2 separate regions of the Homo sapiens genome follow, and region 2 is linked to region 1. The links come from fine-mapping of genetic effects on gene expression. A gene starts in region 1. The other region holds a variant in brackets. All regions are shown on one strand. Distances are from middle to middle.

Region 1 (10,577 bases):
GAATACTACTCAACAAAAAAATTAATGAGGCCGGGTGCAGTGGCTTATGCCTGTAATCCCAGCACTTTGGGAGGCAGAGGTGGGCAGATCACTTGAGGTCAGGAGTTCGAGACCAGCCTGGCCAACATGGTGAAACACTGTCTCTACTAAAATACAAAAATTAGCTGGGTGTGGTGGAGGGTGCCTGCAATCCCAGGTACTTGGGAGGCTGAGGCAGGACAATCGCTTGAACCTGGGAGGCAGAGGCTGCAGTGAGCCGAGATTGCACCACTGCACTCCAAGCATGGGTGACAGAGCAAGACACCCTCTCAAAAATAACTAACTAACTAAATAAATAAACAAACTATCCATACACACAACATCTTGGATGATGACTCTCCAGAAAACTTGAATGACAAAAGCACATTTCAAAAGATTATTCATTTATAATGCTTAAAAAAAATTGAGACAAGGTCTTGCTCTGTCACTCAGGCTGGAGTGCAGTGGTGCGATCATGGCTCATTGCAGCCTCAATTTCCTGGGGTCAAATGAGGTCCCAGCATCCCCAGTAGCTGGGACCAGAGGCACGTGCCACCCTGCCTGGCTAGTTTTTATTTTTTGTTGAGCTAAGGTCTCGCTATATTGCTCAGGCTGGTCTCAAACTCCTGGGTTCAAGCAATTCTCCAGACTTTATCTCCCAAAGTGCTGGGATTACAGGCGTGAACCATTCCACTCAGCCTATGATACATTTTGAAATGACAAAATTTTAAAAATAGAGGACAGATTTGTGTTTTCAAAGGATTAGGGATGGGGGTGGGAGGGAGGTGGTGCAGTTATAAAGGGGTAACATGAGGTGTCCTGGTGGTTTTGGAATCTTGATGGCGGTGGTGGATGCATGAATATATACATGCAATAAAACTGTATAGAAGTAGGCCACACATGGTGGCTCATGCCTGTAATCCCAGCCCTGTGGGAGAGGCCAAGGCAGGAGGATTGCTTGAGCCCAAGAGTTCAAGACCAGTCTGGGCAACAAAGTGAGACTCCTGTCTCTACTCAAAATAAATAAATTAAAAAAATAGCTGGGCATGGTGGCTCATACCTGTAATCCCAGCTCTGTGGGTGGCCAAGGAGGGAGGATCAATTGAGCCCAGGAGCTGAAGACCAGCCTTGGCAAAAGTGAGACCTCGTTTCTACTAAAAATAAGCAAATTAGCTGGCCATGGTGGTGTGTACCTGTGGTCCCAGCTATATAGAAGGCTGAGGCAGGAGGACGGCTTGAGCCCAGGAGGTTGAGGCTGCAAGTGAGTCTGGATGACAGAGTGAGACCTTGTCTCAGGCAAAACAAACCAAACCAAACGGTACACAAGTAAATACACATACTCTTGCACAAATGAGTACAAAAACTGAGGAAATCTGAATGAGATTGGTGAATTCTATCAACGCCAATATGCTGCTTGTGCTATTGCTCTATAGTATTTGAAGACATGACCATGTCACTCACTGTATTTCTTAAAAATACATTTGAATCTACAATTATTAGTTGAAAAAAATATTTATGAGACAGAGGAAGAGAACTCGGAGGGCCTTCAGTTGTTGATGTCAGGACATTACCACCATAGCTGAAGGCCAGAATTCAGAAAACCACTCCTGCTGCCATGCTGCTCCCCCAACCCAAGTGGCTCTCATGCCCATGAAAACGGTGACTAGACCCAAACTTGGACTCTAACTGCCGTTAATCCTCATGTCAGTTGGACCAGAAAGCAGAAGGATGGCTTCTGTTTCACTTCCACCTGCCAGATTGAGCAGGAACGCATCTAATTGACAAAGCTCAATTTGCTTCCTATATATGAGATGCAAAATGGTCTGGGACATGTGGCTTTGAGCACTCTAATTTTTCCAAAGAGAGTATGGAATGGGAGTTGAATGAGCATAATATCTACCATAACCAGCCACTAGCTATGTGGCCTTGGGCGAGTTTATTAATGTTTCCAATCCTCAGTTTCTGACTCTATGAAATAAAGATCATTATCATACTGAGTGTGGACAAACTCAAATTGTTTTTCCCCTGCTCTAACAAAACACCAATCAACAGAGAAGACTTCTGTGACCAAGTATGCATGGGATTTCTTCCCACCCACAAGCAGGCAATCAATTCTATAGGGCACACCAGCTGGGTGCCCTTCAATTCCATTCAACTCTGACACTGTCTCCTTGGAGATAGCATCAGATCCCACAGGTCAAGGGCTCAGTCCCCAATACTGTGCCCCCGCCAACTTCTGATGCCAATTGCAAGCCCCAGGTTATTCTACCTGTGCTTCTGACTGGCCAAAAAGTGGGCTTCACGTGACCCCCTTCTTAGGTTTATTAATCTGAAAGAGTGGCTCACGGAACTCAGGGAATCTCTTACTCAGGATTACCAGTTTACTGGTATGACAAAGTATATGACAAAGGATGCAGATGAGGAGATGTACAGGGCAAGGAATAGGAGGAGCTTGGAGCTTTGGTGCCCACCCTGAAGCGTCACCCTCCATGTACCTCCACGTGTTCAACTATCTAGAACTCTCTGCACACAGTCCTTTTTGGGTTTTTATGGAGGCTTCATTATGTCGGCATGATTGATTAAATCGTTGGCCGTTGGTGATCAACTTAACCATCAGCTTCTCTCTCCTCCCTGGAGGTTAGGGGATGGGGCTGAAAGTCCCAGCCCTCTAATCCTGCATTGGTCTTTACAATGACCAGTTTCCACCCTGAAGCCACCTAAGGGCTGCCAGCCAACAGTGAACTCACTCATTACCCTACAAAATACATCGCTTTGGTGATTCTAAGCATTTTAGAAATCATATGCCAGGAAAACAGAAATGAAGACCAAATATAGATTTCACCACAGCAGACGCACTTACCTCCTGGAGTTGGCTGAGATGCAGCACGCTGCCCCACACATCTCACACGCTCCCTCCATCCATGCTGGCCATTAGCATGGTTTGTGCAATCTGAGAAAGAAGATCAGCAAATGTTCCATGTGAAAAGCAAAGGAAAGAAATGTTTAAAAAAGGAGAGGAGAGAGAATTTTAAAGGGAATGCTGGAGAATCGTTCTTGAATAACTGGCATGCACTCAGTGGCAAGAGATGGGAAAGAAAGAAGTGAAAAATGTTATTCCACATATTTAGTCTTGTACAGAATGATTGACTTTTATCCAATTAGAGGACTTGGAGTTGGAGGCCTCACTCTTTTCTCTATATTTTGTATCATATTAAAACAAATATGAAAATGTTATGAAAAGTCATAAAATGATTCAATATCATATCCCTTTCAGATTATAGCCCCTTGAAGATTATTTCTCCTCTACTGCTATACCCTCAGCAGCTAGTATGTTTCTGGAGATTAGCCAAGTTTGTGAGTAAAGGTATCAGCATCAACAATTAGCTACCAAATGTATTTGCTTCTTCTGACATACCATGAAGTCACTGTATAGTATAGCCAGTGTCTGTCAGTTCAACCACCCGCTTGTTAACATCTTTCACTGGCCTCCTGGAGAAGGGTTACTCAGCCTCAGCACTATTGACATTTTGGGCTAGAAAAATCTTTGTTGTGGGAGCTTCCTGTGCACTGCAGATGGTGAGCAAAATACTTAACCTCTACTCATTAGATACCTATAGCACAACTCCATTTGTGACAATCAAAAATGCCTCCAGACATTGTCAAATGTCCCCTGGGGGCAAAATCACCCAGGGATGAGAACTGTGTTAGAGGAAAACACAACTGAGCCATCACCCTTAGAGCTTTCCACTACCGCTGGTCGCTTTACTTCTAGTTAATGTAATCTTCTTATGCTGCCCCAGACCCTGTGCTGACGTTGTTCAAGTTGCCCTAATGCTACTGGGAAAATGACAACAACCTCCACTACCAACCTCCTCCCTCCGAGCCCACAAACAGTTAAAAAAAAGAACCTCTTTTTCCCTCTAGCTGTCAATCATGGGTTGAATTTTGTCCCTCCCCCAATTAATATATTGATGTCTTAACTCTTAGTAGCTCAAAATGTGACTGTATTTGGAAATAAGGTCATTAAAGAGGGTCCTAATCAAATGTAACTGGTGTTCTTATAAGAACAGGAAGTTTGGACACAGACACACATACAGAGAGAACGCCATGTGAACATGAAGACAGCCAGCTACAAGAAAAGGAGAGAGGCCTCAGAAGAAATCAGCCCTTGATCCTAAACTTCCAGTCTCCAGAACTGTGAGGAAATAAATTTCTATCGTTTGTCACCCTATGGATGGTACGTTGCTGTAGCAGACCTACCACCTGTCTTCAGAAAAGTTCTCTAGAGAAATAGCCTTTATTCTTCAAGCTTCCTCTGACCTACCATTTCCCATCATTTTATAAATATTTTCAGGCCCTAATAATGTTGATTTTTTTTCCATTTTTCTTCTACTGTCACACACTTCTAGGGCAGGTGTTTGGTGGTGTGACAGGAAATTGACTGGTGTCAACTTCCAGTGTTTGTGTGATAGGAGGTCTCAAAACTACAGGATAAATGTGTCATATCTCCCATAAGTATCAGTTTTGCTCAGTGATTTTTTTTTTTTTTTTTTGAGATGGAGTTTTGCTCTTCTTGCCCAGGCTGGAACGCAATGGCAAGATCTCGGCTCACTGCAACCTCCTCCTCCCGGGTTCAAGCGATTCTTCTGCCTCAGCCTCCAGAGTAGCTGGGATTACAGGTGCCCACCACCACGCCTGGCTAATTTTTTGTATTTTTAGTAGAGACGGGTTTTCACCGTGTTGGCCAGGCTGGTCTTGAACTCCTGACCTCAGGTGATCCACCTGCCGCAGCTTCCCAAAGTGCTGGGATTACAGGCGTGAGCCACTGCGCCCGGCTTGCTCAGTGATTTTTTTAAGGAAAATGTTAAATAATTGGCTCATGCATTAATTTAAAGCGTATTTACATGAAAATGAGTATAGTTTTAGCATATTCCCGTATATTTCACAGACATTTCTAGCTTATAGCATGTTCCTCTCAATGGAAGTGTTCCCTCTCCTCAGCTTCAGGGTCTCTTCATCACTCAGAGGCACCATCAGATGTTTGTTGAGCCATTCTCCTCATAGAACGCAGAGGAGAGGCCAGGTGTGAAACCAGACCAGTCTATCTATAGCTAAGAAATATTCCTAACGGACCTCGAGGAGCGCGAGAGGGAGGTTTTAAATGTAATCCTGAGCTTTTCTGATTTTGGGGTTCCAGGTCTGCTATACATACTCTTGCACGTTATATTGGGCACAGCCCTAGTAACTCTGTGATTTGAAATGATGATCTGAAGTTATCGATTAGGGAGAGGAATGTGGACAGAGAAGCAGAGCAACGGAGACCGGGAAGTTTCCGTCTGTGTCCTGGATTGCAGCCAACTGCTTAGGCACACACACCTGCTGCCCTCCCGGCTCTGAGTCACCTCCTCTCCTCTCCCTGTCCAACGAGCAGCTGCCAAATGGCAGCCAAATCCAACAGATGTAAGCCGGGACCCCACCTGTGTTTGAATTACTTTCTTTGAAATCTGCCACGTCCAGGTTTATTGACCCGGGCAGTCTTTTCAACATTTCCTTATGCCGCATACGGGTGGGGCTAGGGACTTTCTTGTGCACTGGCAGTCCTCAGAAGAGAAAACTTTGAATTCAGCTATTTGGAACCTCGTTACTGGTTCCGAGCCTCAGGAAAGGCCAGAAGAGCGAGAGCCAGCCTAGTTAGTCACTCCCACATCTGTGACCCCCGTTTACGGGCCTTGTACGCTACTGCCCTTCAGGTACCATAAACCGGGCTTCTCAAAGGGCACTGCAACAGGTTTCCAGGAATTATTTATCAAAGTCCATGACCCCGGCCCTGTGACCCCTGGGTTTGAAAATTCAGACCTTCAGCCTAACGGAGAGGTCGGCTCAGCGTTCCTCCCAGCATCCTCGGGCGATATTAGGGTCCTGGGAGATTCGGGAGGCCACTGCGTCCAGGCCCCCCACGGCCAGCCAGGCGAGAGGCGGGACGCGAAGCCGCGGCCTCCTTCCTCTTCCCTGAGGCGGTGGCGGCGGCAGGCCCCGCCCCTCCCGCGCGGTGGCCGTCGGCGGAGGGGCGGGGCCTGCTACAGCGTCGCCGGCTGACGCGAATGACGCTGCGCCAGTCAGGCCGCAGCCCCGCTGCTTGGCCCGTCGGGCCCGCCTTGGCCGGCTCGGCCCGCCCCCGGCCCTCCCTGCACGGCCTCCCGTGCGCCCCTGTCAGACTGTGGCGGCCGGTCGCGCGGTGCGCTCTCCCTCCCTGCCCGCAGCCTGGAGAGGCGCTTCGTGCTGCACACCCCCGCGTTCCTGCCGGCACCGCGCCTGCCCTCTGCCGCGCTCCGCCCTGCCGCCGACCGCACGCCCGCCGCGGGACATGGCACACGCACCGGCACGCTGCCCCAGCGCCCGGGGCTCCGGGGACGGCGAGATGGGCAAGCCCAGGAACGTGGCGCTCATCACCGGTATCACAGGCCAGGTGAGTGCGGGGGCGGGGGCGCGCCGGCCGAGGCAGCCTGGGCACGCGTGCTCTCCCTACGCGCCGCTACTCGTGGGCTGCGGTCTCTCCAGGAACAGCCCTCTCGGCGTCCCGGAAGGGGTCTGCTGCCGGGAGGTGGGACGGAAGGTACGGTGCAGTTAGTGTGTTGCGTGTGGGGTGTGCGGGATACATCGAGCGCCTCTGGTCTTTCTCTGGGGGCTGTGAGCGTGTGTGCCGCGCGGGATGTCGCGCTCACACCCGGGCAGGACCGCCCGCTCTCACCTGCCCCTCAGGTGACCGCAGCGTCTCTTCCTCCAAGCCCATGTCGTGCTTCGCAGCTCCTAGTGCCGGAAAGGGAAAAGAACCGGTGATCAATGAACTTGCGGGTGAGGTCTTCTTGATGTGTCTCGGCTCAAGGGGCGCTTACCTGCTAACGTTTGGGAAGCAAGAAAAAGGGTGCTTTGCTGGTTTCGTCCCCTATCACCGGATTTCCAGATAGAAAAGAGAACATGAAAGAAAGTAATGCTGTGGAGTCACCTACTAGGACATGTTTAGGAAAAAGAACTTAAAAAACTTTTTAAAATCACGCCAACTTCTGAGATTCAGGTTGACACATTTGGAAGTGTATCCGAGGCACACTGGTCCAAAAGTGCGGCTAGTTCCATTTTCAAAGGAATAAGTTCGTCGAGTAAGGTAATCAAGAGGAGGTCTTCGGAATGTCTCAGGCTAAGCATGGCTGGTTTGTGAGGGTCGCCTCTTAGAGGTGTTGCAGTAGGTGGGATCCGACCGCTGTGTCTTACCAAGCTGTGCTGTTTTAGATTCAGTGGTCATGAAGTAATCGTGCCCACATATTGCTGTAGAAAGAATGTGATGTGTGTGCTCCTGGGTATCTCTGGGTGGTGGCCAATATAACACTGAGATAAAGGTGATAATGGCTAATACATATTGTGTCTATCATGTTCCAGTCGCTTGCCTAACATTAACTCATTTAGTTCTCATAACAAACTCTTTGAGGAGGTACTTTTATTATCTCTATATATGTGGAAACTGAGGCATGGGAGTTTGATTTGCCTGAGGTTAAACCGCTGGGAAGTGTCCAGTTGGTATTGAAACCACTCTCAAAGTTCTCTAGTGTTAGAAAGGGCTAAGTGGGCAGGAGGCAGCGGCTCATACTTGAAATCTCAGCACTTCGGTGTGCAGAGGTGGAAGGATTGCTCGAGGTGAGGCCAGGAGTTTGAGACCAGCCTGGGCAACATATTGAGACGTTGTCTCTACAAAAAAATTTAAAAAATGAGGCAGGCATGTTGGTGCTCACCTGTAGTGCTAGCTACTCAGGAGGCTGAGGCAGGAGGATCACTTGAGTCCGGGAGTCTGAGGCTGCTGCAGTGAGCAATGATGGTACCACTGTACTCCAGCCTGGGGCAAGAGAGTGAGATCCTGCCTCAAAAAAAAAAAAAAAAAAAAAAAAAAAAAAAAAGAAGGAGAAGTTGAAATTGGCCAGATGCACAGTCACAGAATATTACACAATTTCAAGTATTGAATACCTGATTTACTGCTGGTTATTCATGCATCTTGCTTTGCTTAAGGTAATCATAATAGACAAGAGTTTGAAAACTAGTAAGAGGTGGATCTGAGTTTGAAAACTAGTAAGAGGGCAAGGATCTGAGGTTGAGAAATTGAATCCTTGAATTGAGGCAGTAAGACAGGTCAGGGCCTACATACTGTCCTCCCCCTTCTCTTTGTTTTCTAATGCTGGGACCTTTCTGCAGATGATTCCCTTTTTTCCATTTTGTCAGACTGGACCTGAAGCTCAAATGTTTACCAAGTTTACCTAATCTCTGGAAAGTAGAGATTTTATTTTAGTATTGTCCGGAAATTAGTTAAGATTAACATCTTAACTAATGTGCTGTGTTGGTGTGGCCTATACCAATTTACACGACCAGCAGTATGAATCAGTGCAGATTAGAAATGGAACCTAATTTTGACTTTTAAGAGCAGTCATTTGGCTGGAACTGAGTGGCCAGGAAGGTATGGAAGTGGGCCCCCACTCTAGTTTGTCCTGCAGCCTGTCATGGGAGTCTACCTGAAGCACCACACTCAGCAGACCACTCCCTGACTGGAATTTTTTGGTTCCTCATTTCATTTCCAACTTAAAACACCTGCATGGCTTTCAGGTTGGGTTGAATCTCTGCCCCAGTGTTTCTTTCTTCCCTCCGGCATCTGCCCTCTGCATTGTCTCCTCATTTGGTGTTGCATTGGCTTCTGTACCCCTAGCATAGTGCTGAATTCTGTAGCTACCACATAAACACTTGCAGATGGAATTTACTGCTCTTTTATGTTTTTTATTTGTATTCCAGGACAGTGACTCCCAACTTGAGTATCAAGGATCTCTGGAGCACTGTGGTGTTAATGCAAGGGGTCTGAAAATCCATACCTTATTGTATGTTTTCTTAATAATATTGGCTGAGAACTTACTGAGCTATTCACTCTGCTAAGCATTTTGTATATCCCTACCTAAGAGACAGGTATAATAAGTATCCCCATTTATCCCTGGCTAAGTAAGGTTAAATATGTTCCCTGAGGTCGTACATCTAATGAGTGTCAGAACTGAGATCTGAACCCAGATCTCAGCAGTTGCTGTAAGTCATTTTGTTATACAGACTGTGGTGAGCCTTATGAGACAGAGAGAAATAAATAGTCTTACTCTAAGAAGAGATTTCAGATTCAAATGCCACTGCTCTGGCACTTGGGGCTATCATGGCATTTGTGCCAAGATGGGCTCTTAAATGGGTTGTCCCAAATTCCCGCTTGAGAATAGTGCGGACAGCCAGGGTGTCCTGTCTGCTGTGTATCTCTAGTACGTATTGTCAGGCTTCTTATTCTAGCCTTCCCCTCCCATCGGTTCTTGACACACTCCTTTTCCAAAGTGGGAACCTTATTAAATAGGCTTTAAAGAAGCTCAGGCTCTGGCTTTGCATTGCTGTCTCCAGGCCCTCTGCCAGCCACTCTTAAAAGCTCACCCCCATTGGCTAATGATGCTGTTCTTTACTGCACTCTTGGAGATGTTCTTGCTGTTTTTTGAATACTGTTGCCTTGTACCTCTTTGGAGTAATTATTTGTGGCTGAATGGCCTCACAATTCTTATTCCTTTTAAGGTGAGTCTCAGTGTTCTCAGCCTAATCCTGATAAATGCAGCCATTCCAGGAACTTCCTCTGTATTTACATGTATGCAGTCCCTGTTGATTGTATAAGTAATTTCATATCTTTTGTCTTGAGATTATGAACTACTTTAAGATAGAAATCTCATTTTCAGCCTGTTACCTCCCACATGCCTTCATCTAGTGGGGTTTCAAAACTGTTGACTTACTTTTTCCATTAGCAGAACACATCTTCACTGCATGTCTGCAGTGTCCAAGGCTTGTTTTGGTGCTGCTGCAGATATAAAGATATGAAAGTTGTCTTCATCTGTTTGTGTTGCTATAAAGGAATACCTGAGGCTGGGTAATTTATAAAGAAAAGAGGTTTATTTGGTTCATGGTTCTGAAGGCTGTACAAGAAGCATGGCACCAGCATCTGCTTCTGCTGAAAGCTTTAGGCTTCCACTCATGGAGCTAGTGTATGCAGAGATTACATGGTGAGAGAGGAAGCAAGAGGTGGGGTGGGGTGTGGGGTGCCAGGCTCTTTTTAACAACCGGCTCTAGCGGGAGCTAATAGAGTGAGGAGTCACTCATTACTGTGAGGATGGCACCAAGCATTCATGAGGGATCTGCTTCCATGACCAAAACACCTCCTATTAGTTCCCACCTCCAACCTTGGGGATTAAATTTCAGTGTGAGATTTGGAGGGGTCAAAGATCCAAACCATGGCATTCCATCCCTGACCCCCCAGATCTCATCCTTCTCACATGCAAAATACAATCATCTTTCTCATGCAAAATACAATTCCAATAGTCCCTAAAATTCTTAACTTGTTCCAGCACCAACTTAACGGTTCAAAGTCTGAGACTCAAAGCAAGTTCCTTCTAGCTATGAGCCTGTAAAACCAAAAACGAATAATTTTTTTCCAAGATACAATGGTTGTACGGTCATTGGGT
Region 2 (10,577 bases), 480 kb after region 1:
ACTTGGAAGGCTGAGGCACGAGAATCACTTGAACCTGGGAGGTGGAGGTTGCAGTGAGCAGAGATCACGCATTTTTTGGTTGTGGAGATCACGCCACTGCACTCCAGCCTGGGTGACAGTGCAAGACTCCGTCTCAAAAAAAAAAATAAAAAATAAAAAACATTTAAACTCTGTGTTACCTAAAGGATATCAAAATTTTGTGTCTGTGCTAATTGATGTTGGTTTGTTAGAGCTTTAAACTATTGAGGTCGAAGCTTGGGCTTCAGTCTTCCTCCTGGCCAATTAATAGCCTCGTTAAGTGGCTGAGGATTTCACTGAGTCCTGCCAGTCCCCTTGAAAATGCCCATGAGGGGTTAGCAAAAGGGAAGGCAGGGAATTACAGAATGCCAATCAATTCCATCCCTGTGCTTCCTGGGTTGTTTGTGTTTTCATAGCTTCAGTGTGAATATAACTTGGATTTTAGCTGAGAAGTAGCTTGACACAGGTTAAAGTGTCATTTTCTTTATTTCCTCCAGCTTTGAGAGAATTTGTTACCCCAGTATTGGACATTCCAGAATTCTGTTTACTCACAAGTTAGACTGCATACCTTCTGTTACACTGGTTGCTTCTGGGAGAAGGATCCGCTTCCTCTTTATCTCCGTAAACCCAGTTCTATTAGTGTCAGTTATTGTCGTGAAGCTTGAGTGAAAGTCGATCACACAGAATCACCAAGTCAAAATAAAGGACTTTTCTAGGAACGAATTACATCAGTAGATAACCTAACTTAAATTATAATATACTAGTGAATAATTTTTTATCACTGAGTACTTTTCTCTCTGTAGAATATAGTATAATCAGACAGAGTAAGCTGTTATTTCCTCTCCTGGGCATATTATTCTGTATCTTTTATCTCTTACAATATTGAAGGAATATTAAAAGGAACTCAAAATGAATAAGCACACAAAAAATGAGAAATATAAGCATAACTCTTTTAGTCTGTAAAATGTCAGTAGTTAAATAGGAGTTGTGAAGTGCCAGTTTTTACAAATTATGAATATTCAAAAGATACAAAAACATGTTTAAATCAAAGCAAAATATATAGATTGAGTATTCCTTATCTGAAATGCTTGGGAACAGAAATGTTTTGGGTTTTGGAGTATCTGCATTATACTTACTGGTCGAACATCCCAAATCCAAAAACAGAAATGCTCCAATGAGCATGTCCTTTGGACGTTAAGTCAGCACTCAAAAAGTTCAGATTTTGGAACATTTCAGATTTCAGATTTTTGGATTGGGGTACTCAACCTGTATATTATGTGACAGTGACTAACAAGAAACATTTATTCATGAAGGAATGAGTAAACGTAGTACCTCCTTGGTTGAAGCAGGAGTTCTAAGGTATGTACCCAAGTTTGAATTCTTCAGTATCTTATCTGTCATATATTGGTAGTAGCTGGCAATATTGATCCCTTTTTTGGAGCTGTTCTTCCAATTAAATTTTTAGAAGCAAATGCTGAAATCATCATCCTTGCACTTTTTGAACATATCCTATTGATTATACTGTCGTTCTAAATATTTACAATGTATTCTTTCAAATATTTGTGGATATAATAGAAAGCATGTCTCTATGACATTGTATGCTTTACTGAAGTGACATTAGATATTCCCCTGTTTACACACATTCATATGGTTAATGACTCATGTTACCTATTAAGGTTTCCTGTTTCCTGATTTAAAAGATATTTAAAGGCCTCAGTACTGAAATGTTTATTTTTACCTCTGGATCTTCTGCTTCATATAGTAACATATACAGGCTAAATACCTATTTTAACACCACCAGACCCACTTTTTACCTTTATTATGAAACTAGGGTTTGGTCAGCTGAGGGCAAGCTGTATGCATAACATAGCTGGCAGTATAGTCGGTGAACTGTCACCGAGAAGAGAGTCAAAATGTAAACACTGAGCAATTCTACAGCAGCTTAGAGCCGGGATTAACTGGGATCACCTAGTATTCTGTTTTTAATGAAACTCTCTCCCTTGTATTTTCATGTTTGGGAGAGAGTCCAAAGTTATCTCATGCTAATTTAGTTAGGCAGTGCCCTCCGGGGATGTCACAGGCTTCCCTGACCTCTCCAGAGAGAGATTCAGTGAAGGGATGAGGAGAATTAAACATTCCTGAGAAATTGGAAAGCAACAACCCCCAGAGAATTTGCAGAGAAACTCGCTCCAGACTCGGCTGCCAGAGACTCAAGTCACCTTTTCAGCACTTGCTTAACATCTCTCTCAGTCCCATCTGGCTTGACTCAGAGGTCAGTCTGGGAGACTCGGGAGTGGTGGCAGCTCAGAGAAGAATTCAAGGGAGGGCCACCAATAGCACATTCTGCTCTTGTTGCTTGTTTTTATCTGAAGTACATTTGAAAAGATGGACAGGGCATAAGGTTGAAGTAATAACTTGACTTTGCTTGGCCATCTTTTTTTCCTTTTAACCCAAAATTTACTTTAAGGTGAACTGGTATTTTTATTTCCCAAATAATAAGTTCCTTGATTCTTGATGACTGAAACTTAAGAGTTGTTGTCGTTTCTGTTATACAGGACCTCTGTGACTAATTATTTTGTAATTAGCCATTTTACAAAGGATATTTTCTTTTATGCGTTTAATGAAATTTGGGGGGGTGGTGGGTGGAAAATATGTTTCCGGTTTTAAAATCATATTCCCTTTGTGGTTTACATTTCGTATATGAAGAATTTCAGAAAACTAGGAAAACAAAAGTATTATTAAATATTGAATCTGTATTATAAACAAATCTAAGGAGCTACATTTTATAGTTTGTTCATTTCATTTTCTACTGAACAGAATAAAGTTCAGTGTGCCCTACAGCTGTGGTGTGAGAGGAAGGTTTGGGGATCCCTGCTCGATTTTACACTTAAGTCAGATTCAGCAGGAAATAAAGAACCCTTACCCGGTGCTCCTTTAAGCCAGATTGCTGAGCTGGGAGACCTAGCTGACCAGATCTGGCCCATTGCCAGGCTTTGTTTAGTCCAGTCAGTGTTTCAGCCCACAGCTAACATTTTAGAGTTTGTTGGGTTTTTAAAAAACATAACGCAGTTTTTAGCATGTTCGATGTGCAGCTCCTCCGTGTAAGCAGATCTGGTGAGACTGGTTCAACATCCCCAGGTGGGAACCGTCTGTGGGAAACGGGGCGCTTGCTGGGCCTTCTAGAAGGGGAGAGCCTCTGCAGGCTGCCTGAGGTGAGCTTCCCTGGGCTCCGGAGGCACTGGAGTAGCGAGGCCCACCTTAGACCCTCCTCCCGAGCCATACACAAGAGAGAAATCACTTTTCAAAGTAAGCGACTTTGTTCATTAGAAAGTGAGTTATAGCAGATATATAAATATGATACTCATTTCTTCATTGGTTCCCATTAGGATTCTCAAGATGCTTTTCTCTCTCCGTGGTGGCCTACAAAGAGACCTGGCCCGGGAGACGGAAGGTGTGGGTTCTAACGCAGAGCCTTTCCCCAGCACCTGAAACAGCTCATGCACCGCGTTTCCTGAAGCCCAAATGAATCTGCTGCCTCGAAAGTTCTGTGGTCTTTGCTCCTGTCCAATTTCCAGTGACTCAATGCACATCAGCTTAAATTAGCTAACTTCTCCTTGCTTCTGTGCCACACACAAAAATTAATCATGGCATCAGGTATCTTGATGCACTGAAAGAGTATTACATTTAAACAGACGGGCAGCGAATCCATGAATCATCCTGAGCTTCACATACCCACCCTCCATTTCACATGTGTCGTTTTCATATAGTGCAGCCGCTCTGCCCACTGGGAGAGAGGACGTTTGCAGCTGATTTCTGAAGTAGAGGAGTTAATAAAGGCACCAGGCATGTTTCGAAGGACCCAGGTGAAAGCCTTCTTACATCCTCAGCCCTTTGCTTTAGGGCTGAAGATAGGACAGAGAGAAGAGTCCTGGGCTGAGTCTCGCAAGGGCCTTCTCAAGGCCTTTGCGTTTGTTCTGCTATTTCCTAAACCTTTCTCCACTGTGCCGAAGGAGTTAAAGGGCTCCGAGCCCTAACCCTCCATCGGGGAGTGTCTCGGGCACCAGCGAGAATCTGGCACAGGACATGTTTTCATGGAACTGCTTATCAAAACTAAGCTTCTGCCGTTTCATTTAGACGGGGTAGATTGGGTGGAAAACTGGCCCAGGGACCAGGAAATTTGCCTTCTGTTCCTGCTCAGCCGCCGCGTGACCCTGTTGCAGGTCAGTCCTCCAAGCATGTCTCAGTTTCTCCATCTGTAAAATTAGACAATGAAATGAATGTTATTTATAAGAAACCTGAGGGAAATCCTTCTGATTATCTTCACTGAAACAATGCGAATGAATATTTTTGTGGGGGCTCTGCCTTGCTCTCTTCCTGGGCTCACTCTTGCCTAGCGCCTTCTTATCTGCTCGAGGGGTTTTTCAGACCACAGCCTTCTCAGTGCTTGTTAATGGGTTGTGTTCCCATCTCACCTTCTTGTTAACACCATCCCCAGCTCTAGGAAAAGAGGCGGTGGCCTTGGGAACTCTTTATGCCAAAATAAACAACAAAGTTTGGAAACATTTAGACCAAGATAATTAGGAAAATGGTGTTGAATAAAAGATAGCATTAGAATTGCTACCATGCTTAAGTTAGAATCCGGTTCCAAAAAGCACAATCTCCAGTTAACTGATCTGTTGTAAATTTTTTTTTTCTTTTTGGTTTAGTTTTGTTTTTTAAAAGATTTAAATTGTTTAAATCTTCTGATCACTCCTGTCAGTTAAGGTTTCTTCCTCATTGAGAAGTCACACTGGGGGGAAAAAAATGTGCCCACAGCTGTTTACTATTTAGCAACACTATTAAAGGAACACTATTTAACAATAATTCATGAAGCTCCCTACTCAGAAAAAAAGACAGCTCCTCTGAACTATCTACCTATATAATACAAATTTATTTTCTTGAAATTGCAAAAACCCGCATGTTGAGACAAACATATAAATTGCCAGGATTTTTGTGTTCTTTCAGAACTTAAATATAACCAAACGATTTTGGGCAAGGAATCAGAAATTCTTTAGAACGGAAATGTTGAAACCCCAGATTCAGTTCTAAAACTCATCTTTCAAAAAGAATTCATGCTCTGAAAAATGCAGCGTTTTTATGTTTGGTATGATAACAGCCCCATGGAATTATCACATCATATCTTGACGATCGTTA[C/T]GGAGCGGTGATGATCTCTTAGGCATTAACCCAGGATTTTCTCCAATAATATTATCATTTATAACAGCAATAACATTTTGTAGATCACAGAGTGCTTTTAACATATTATCTGATGGGATACCTAAAACCCTATAACCTGTGTAAGAAAATCAAGGGTGAAATGAGTAAGTTGTCTAAAGTGACAAGCCTATTCCAGACAGGGCCCAGCGTTTTAGGACTTCAGTCCAAGTTCTTTTCACTACATGATATTAAGACTATCCTTTATCATCGAGTATTTTCCTGTAAAAATAATTCATTTGGAAAGATGAAGAAACACATAAAGCCTCCATCTCTTGCCTCTGTGAACCTCTCGGCTCTCACATCCCACACACGGGCCTCCGTTTTGAGTGCATGTTTTCGTATTCACCCTCACAGCACATTCCCAGCTTTAAATAGTTGTCTCCCATCTTGTATGAATGTACATTTGTGATCACAGAAAGGCCTTCTCAGTTACCAGCACTGTTTTTACTGCTGGGAACAAAATCATTTCAAACAAACAGCTTTTTTTTTTCTTCGCTCCTTCACTCTTAACCCCCAGCCTCAGTAGCACTACGAGGAGATGTACCGGACAAGCAGCAGGCAGGCCTACAATGCCCGCTCTGTCTTTCCCCTGCAGACCCTCCAAACTAGCAGGGGTGCCTGCCAAGAGGGGGTGCCTCAGCTCCAGTGGATCGCAGCTTCAGCAAATGGCACTGCTCCCTCCAAGGGAGCCCTCCACCTGTGCCCCCAGTGTGGAGACAGGGAGCACTCTTCACTCTCAGGAGCGGATGTTCACTACTTTCACTAGTGGTCCTAGCAAAGTTTCAAACTGAGCTACTGAGTGGGAGACAGATTCGTACCAATGGAGAAACTGGTTCTTCCGCTTTCTAGATTTCATGCCACCATGATGACTGGGATGTCCCATTGTTCCCCCTGGGCAAACCGGAAATCCATTTTACTGTTAGAAATACTAGATCTTTAAAAAATCTGTTTATTCTGGAGTCAGTCACACACAGGGCAATCTATGTGAAAGAAAAGAGGAAGGAGCAGTTGCATAATTGTCATACCATCCATCATGTTCATTCTCACACTGACCATGGTTTTTAATGTCTGTCCACCTGCAGTCTGTGGCCTCGCCAGACAGTAAGGGCAGCGCCCTGGAAGTGGGGGATTTATCACTTGCCAGTAGGTTTACTCTTGGGGAGACGCTGGGGTTTTATCTCCATGCCCCTGGAGAATTGACTTACTGAATGCTTCCCTTGAAGACCTAAGTCACTGGTTCTTCAGCCCCTTTGCATAGTCCTCTCACTGAAATCAGAACTGAATTTGTTCTTTTTCATTTTTGGTTAAGAAGATGCACATTAGAAGACAGCTCAGAGCAATGGGGCTGACCTAGTGGGAAAAGACACTGGTTTCTTTTCACGTTTCTGGATGGCCCGTGGCCCACATCTGCCAGCATCTTCGCACGTGTCCACAGCACCAGTCAGCCTCACCCACCTTGTCTTTCCCTTTGCGATCTTAGAAAGAATTTGGTAGAAATGGGAACCGAAGATTGAGCAGAAAGTATAATTACCACATGTATTTACCAGCTCATTTTCAAGAGCAGTAAAAGTACACTAAACATTCTGCTTGTACATACACTAGCACTTTAAAACTACCAGCTTTCTAAAACATGGTTTTGATTTTTGGAGCAAACATTCAATTGCTATTCTTTGATATTATTGATTTATAAACAAAATGATCAGCATTCCCTAATGTCTCGAAGCAAAGAAATTAGGGTAACACATTTAAAATTTATCAGTTTGAAACTTTCTAAATACTCTTCCTTAATAATAACCACAATACACTGAAAATGTCAAGTTCTGTAAAAAATGAACAGGGACGCGAATGTGTCGGGCTTCATTTTGAAGACCCAGCGTGTTTCTCATCCTCCCCAGGAAGGGAAGGTTGAAATCATGAAGTTAACATCTGCCTTTTCGTAAACACCACCTCAAAGTGCTCTTTCTCTTAGGTTGGAGGCTGAAAGAAAGAAGCACAAATCTTCCCTGGGCCAAGAGTTTCATCATAAGCCCTGTGTGATCAATAAGTACATTGTGGTGGTTATTTCATAGCTGATTAACTTATATGTCTACAAGCCAACACTTGACTTGAAAGGCTGGTCGGGTTGCTCGCCGTGCGAGCATGGCCTTTACCAGCCTGCCCTGGCAGCCAGCTCTGGGACTGCTCACTCCTGACCACAACCCGGGTACAGCCCTGAAGTTTCGTCGTGAGTAACCCGTCAGCAGGAGCCCATGCCTCTCTGAAAGGGCATTTTGTCTTTTTTGGCAGTACCAAATGGCAGGATAATTAGTGTTAGGGAGGGAAAAAACAGAATTGAAAACCACATCCGATACCTGGTTATGGACTCTTCAACTTTGTGGAGGCAGAAAATGTGGTGGCTTTATTTTTCTTAATAAATGCAGACGGTTATAAGCAATTGAGCATTTAATGATGAGATGATGCTGAAAGGCATAACTTAATAAAAATTGCCTCTGTGTTTCTCACTTCATGGTTGAAACAGACTGTGCTTCTCGGCTTTTTCTGTAATCAGGTTTATATCAGATTGTCCTTTAATTCACGTTAAGATCTTACATCTTAGTACTTCCTCTTAGAGTTTTTGTATTCCTCCTTGCAAAGTCTCTGTTTCATTTTTAGGGAAAGGGTTTCCTATAGTTTTTTTTTCGTCTCCAGTGTTGCTTTTAATTTCACCAATTATGGAGTAAATAAATCATTGTGTACTTGGAAGAAAAATTGGCAGGAGAGCAGAATATGTTAAGGACTCTTGCTTTTCATTGTGAGCGAGATTTCCCAACTGGAGCGTCTCTGTTTTATTTTGCCTCTGGCTAACATCTGAAGATCAGTAATAAAGCTCTATGCAAATACTTTCATGTATTAAAAGAACAATATTTTGACACTCATTGACACAAGCAAAAAAAATACAACATTAAATTAGTGTTCAGGCAAACAATGAAGACATTGTTCATTCACATGAAATGCATGTGAAAAATGCTGTGTTATATTAACAGAAAAGCTTGCTCCTCAGAACTCGACCTTTAGCACTGGCGTAAATGACATTACTTATGGTGCTGTATAGTATTAGACAGGCTTTCTTGTTAACAGTCTTGAGCAGCCGTTGATAACTTGTCAGACTACTGAGAATTTTAGTCACCAAAAAATAAATGTTCATTCTCAGTACCTGATAATTTAAGTTTCTCACAGATTTTTTAAATTATCTTTTGGATATTTTAGAGTTTTCAAATACTCGATAAGTTAAATACTTTAAAAGTGTTAATTCATTGTAGGCTTTTTCTACTTGTTTTTCCAGATTTCATCTAGAATTAAGTAGACTTAATTTTTTAAAAACTCCCTTGATCATCTATAATGTGTTTTTAAAATAATTGAACTTCAAGGTACGCTCTTGATTTTTATTCTGAATCTTGGAGAACACAGGGGGCCTTTTGTTTAATTTTCAGTCATGTGGACAGGCCCTTCCATGGAAGGGGAGGTTTCTCTAGATGACTCTTTGCATGTATGTAGTAGAATTTCTTTCCTCCTTTATCACTACACTCAAATGTTACAGTTACAATCATTGTTTTCTTAAATACAACTGGCTTCCCTTTTCATCTGTGTTGATCCAGGACATTGCAGAGTCAGCATCTGGGAAATCATTATGCCAACAGACCATCCCAGTCCCGGGTGAGGTCAAGTTAGTAAGAGCAATTGGACCACCCGAAAGAACAAAGCTCAGATACTCCTCATAGTGGGACATTCTCAGATTAGCAAACAAAAATTAAAAGAAGAATGATTAAATCTAATTATATTCAGCATGTTTTTCAGAGTACTGAGTGGAAGAGTGACTTTTAACTTGACATCTAGATTTTTGTGAATGAAGACACTGGGGAAACACATTTGAAATGAGTTTTAACCAACAAGTTGCATAGGACACTAGGTTCCCAGTTACAAAGACGGTGCATGTCCCAGCCTGCCATCTTTAGAGGCGCTCAAGGGTGGGCGGTCCTCGGCGGTGGGGACTGCGGGGGCCATGGGTTGATGACACCCTCATGAGGACCCTGAGTACTCCTCCTCCTCTGGTGTACTGGGTTGTCTCCTCTGTGTTCCCACAGCTCCTTTCACACTGGCCCCTCTCCCATCATTTTAGTGGCTGGCTGGGCAAGTGGCCATCTTCCCCACTGGATACTGAGGTCAACAGGTGGTGACTTATCCCCCCTGGAGCTCCCTTCTTACCACTGAATACAGAGCTGATACACAACTGGTCCCATATACTCGTGGTCCAGAAGTCCTATTTGCTCTTTATCCAAACTTGTTTGCTAAAGGAGCAGAAACCAACTCAAAGAAATTCATGGAAAACGGGATTTTTTGTAAGGAGCCTCAGGGCACCTCGCAGGAATGGGAAAGGAGGATCTGCTTTCCTCTGTGTCTGCACATCTCCCTCACTCCCTCCCTCCTCGTGGGCTCCCTTTCCCACTCTGCTGCCCACACAGGTCTTCATGCCTCCCAGTCTCTCCAGCTGGCTCCGCCCCGGTGACAGTCTCACGCCTGGGTGCTCAGCCCTTTCCTGCTGTTTCTGCCTCTGGGTCTCTTACTGCAAATGTCTTTGACATTCCCATTGGCCCAGAATATGTTAGGTCTCCATCCATGGAAACCGAAGGGTGTTGGGGGGTGGGGGGCTGGGGCGCAGTAGGCACAGGGACACATCACCTGGTTTAAATACACCTGGCTTGACTCACTCCTTCATCAAGAGCAGTGTGTGGGGACAGTCTTATTAGGAGGAAGGTTTTAGAAAGGAGCCATACCTGATAGTTCCCTGATAACTACCTGAAGCCTCTGTCCCAAAAGTTATTTCTTAAATCAGATTTGGACTTTTAAAACGCTTTTTCCTATATAAATGTTTAAAGCACGTAGGCCAGGCACAGTGTCTTCCCTGTCTGTTCCTACGTGGTCTATCGCCAGACTCTAGCACAGTGCCCAGCAACTAGCAGGCACACTGTAAACATTCATTTCTTGTCTGGTCAGGTCCCCAGGTTAGCTCACAAAAGTCCACACAGCTATTTGTAACCAGCACGTAGAATTGAGTTTCAACAAGAAAATGTATTCTACACACAGCCATTAGGAGAATGCACAAGAGCATCATGCAGTCGCAAGAATACAGGAAAGGGAGTTGAGGTTCCAGCCCCAGCTCTAACACTTAGCAGGTGTATGACTTCAGGTGAACCATTTAATCTCTCCAGTTTCAGCTGCTTCATCTTTAACATTTGTGGAATTGAATGACAACACCTCTAAGGCCCCTT

The links. PIP is the estimated chance that this variant, and not a neighbour inherited with it, causes the effect.
Region 2: its variant is fine-mapped to the expression of GMDS-DT in spleen (GTEx, PIP above 0.99).

Annotation. Positions count from the first base shown.
Region 1 is chr6:2,241,228-2,251,804 of GRCh38, reverse strand. GMDS-DT (GMDS divergent transcript) reads right to left here and starts at 6,052. Exons shown (of 7, transcript NR_046229.1): 1 at 5,875-6,052; 2 at 2,879-2,968. GMDS (GDP-mannose 4,6-dehydratase) reads left to right here and starts at 6,200. Exons shown (of 11, transcript NM_001500.4): 1 at 6,200-6,484. The coding sequence starts at 6,383. RefSeq lists a silencer at 5,928-6,557 and an enhancer at 6,058-6,558.
Region 2 is chr6:1,759,279-1,769,855 of GRCh38, reverse strand. All of the region lies in intron 7 of GMDS (GDP-mannose 4,6-dehydratase), which reads left to right. LOC124901239 (a long non-coding RNA gene) reads left to right here and starts at 4,245. Exons shown (of 2, transcript XR_007059404.1): 1 at 4,245-10,577. The variant C/T (reference allele first, on the strand shown) is at 5,212.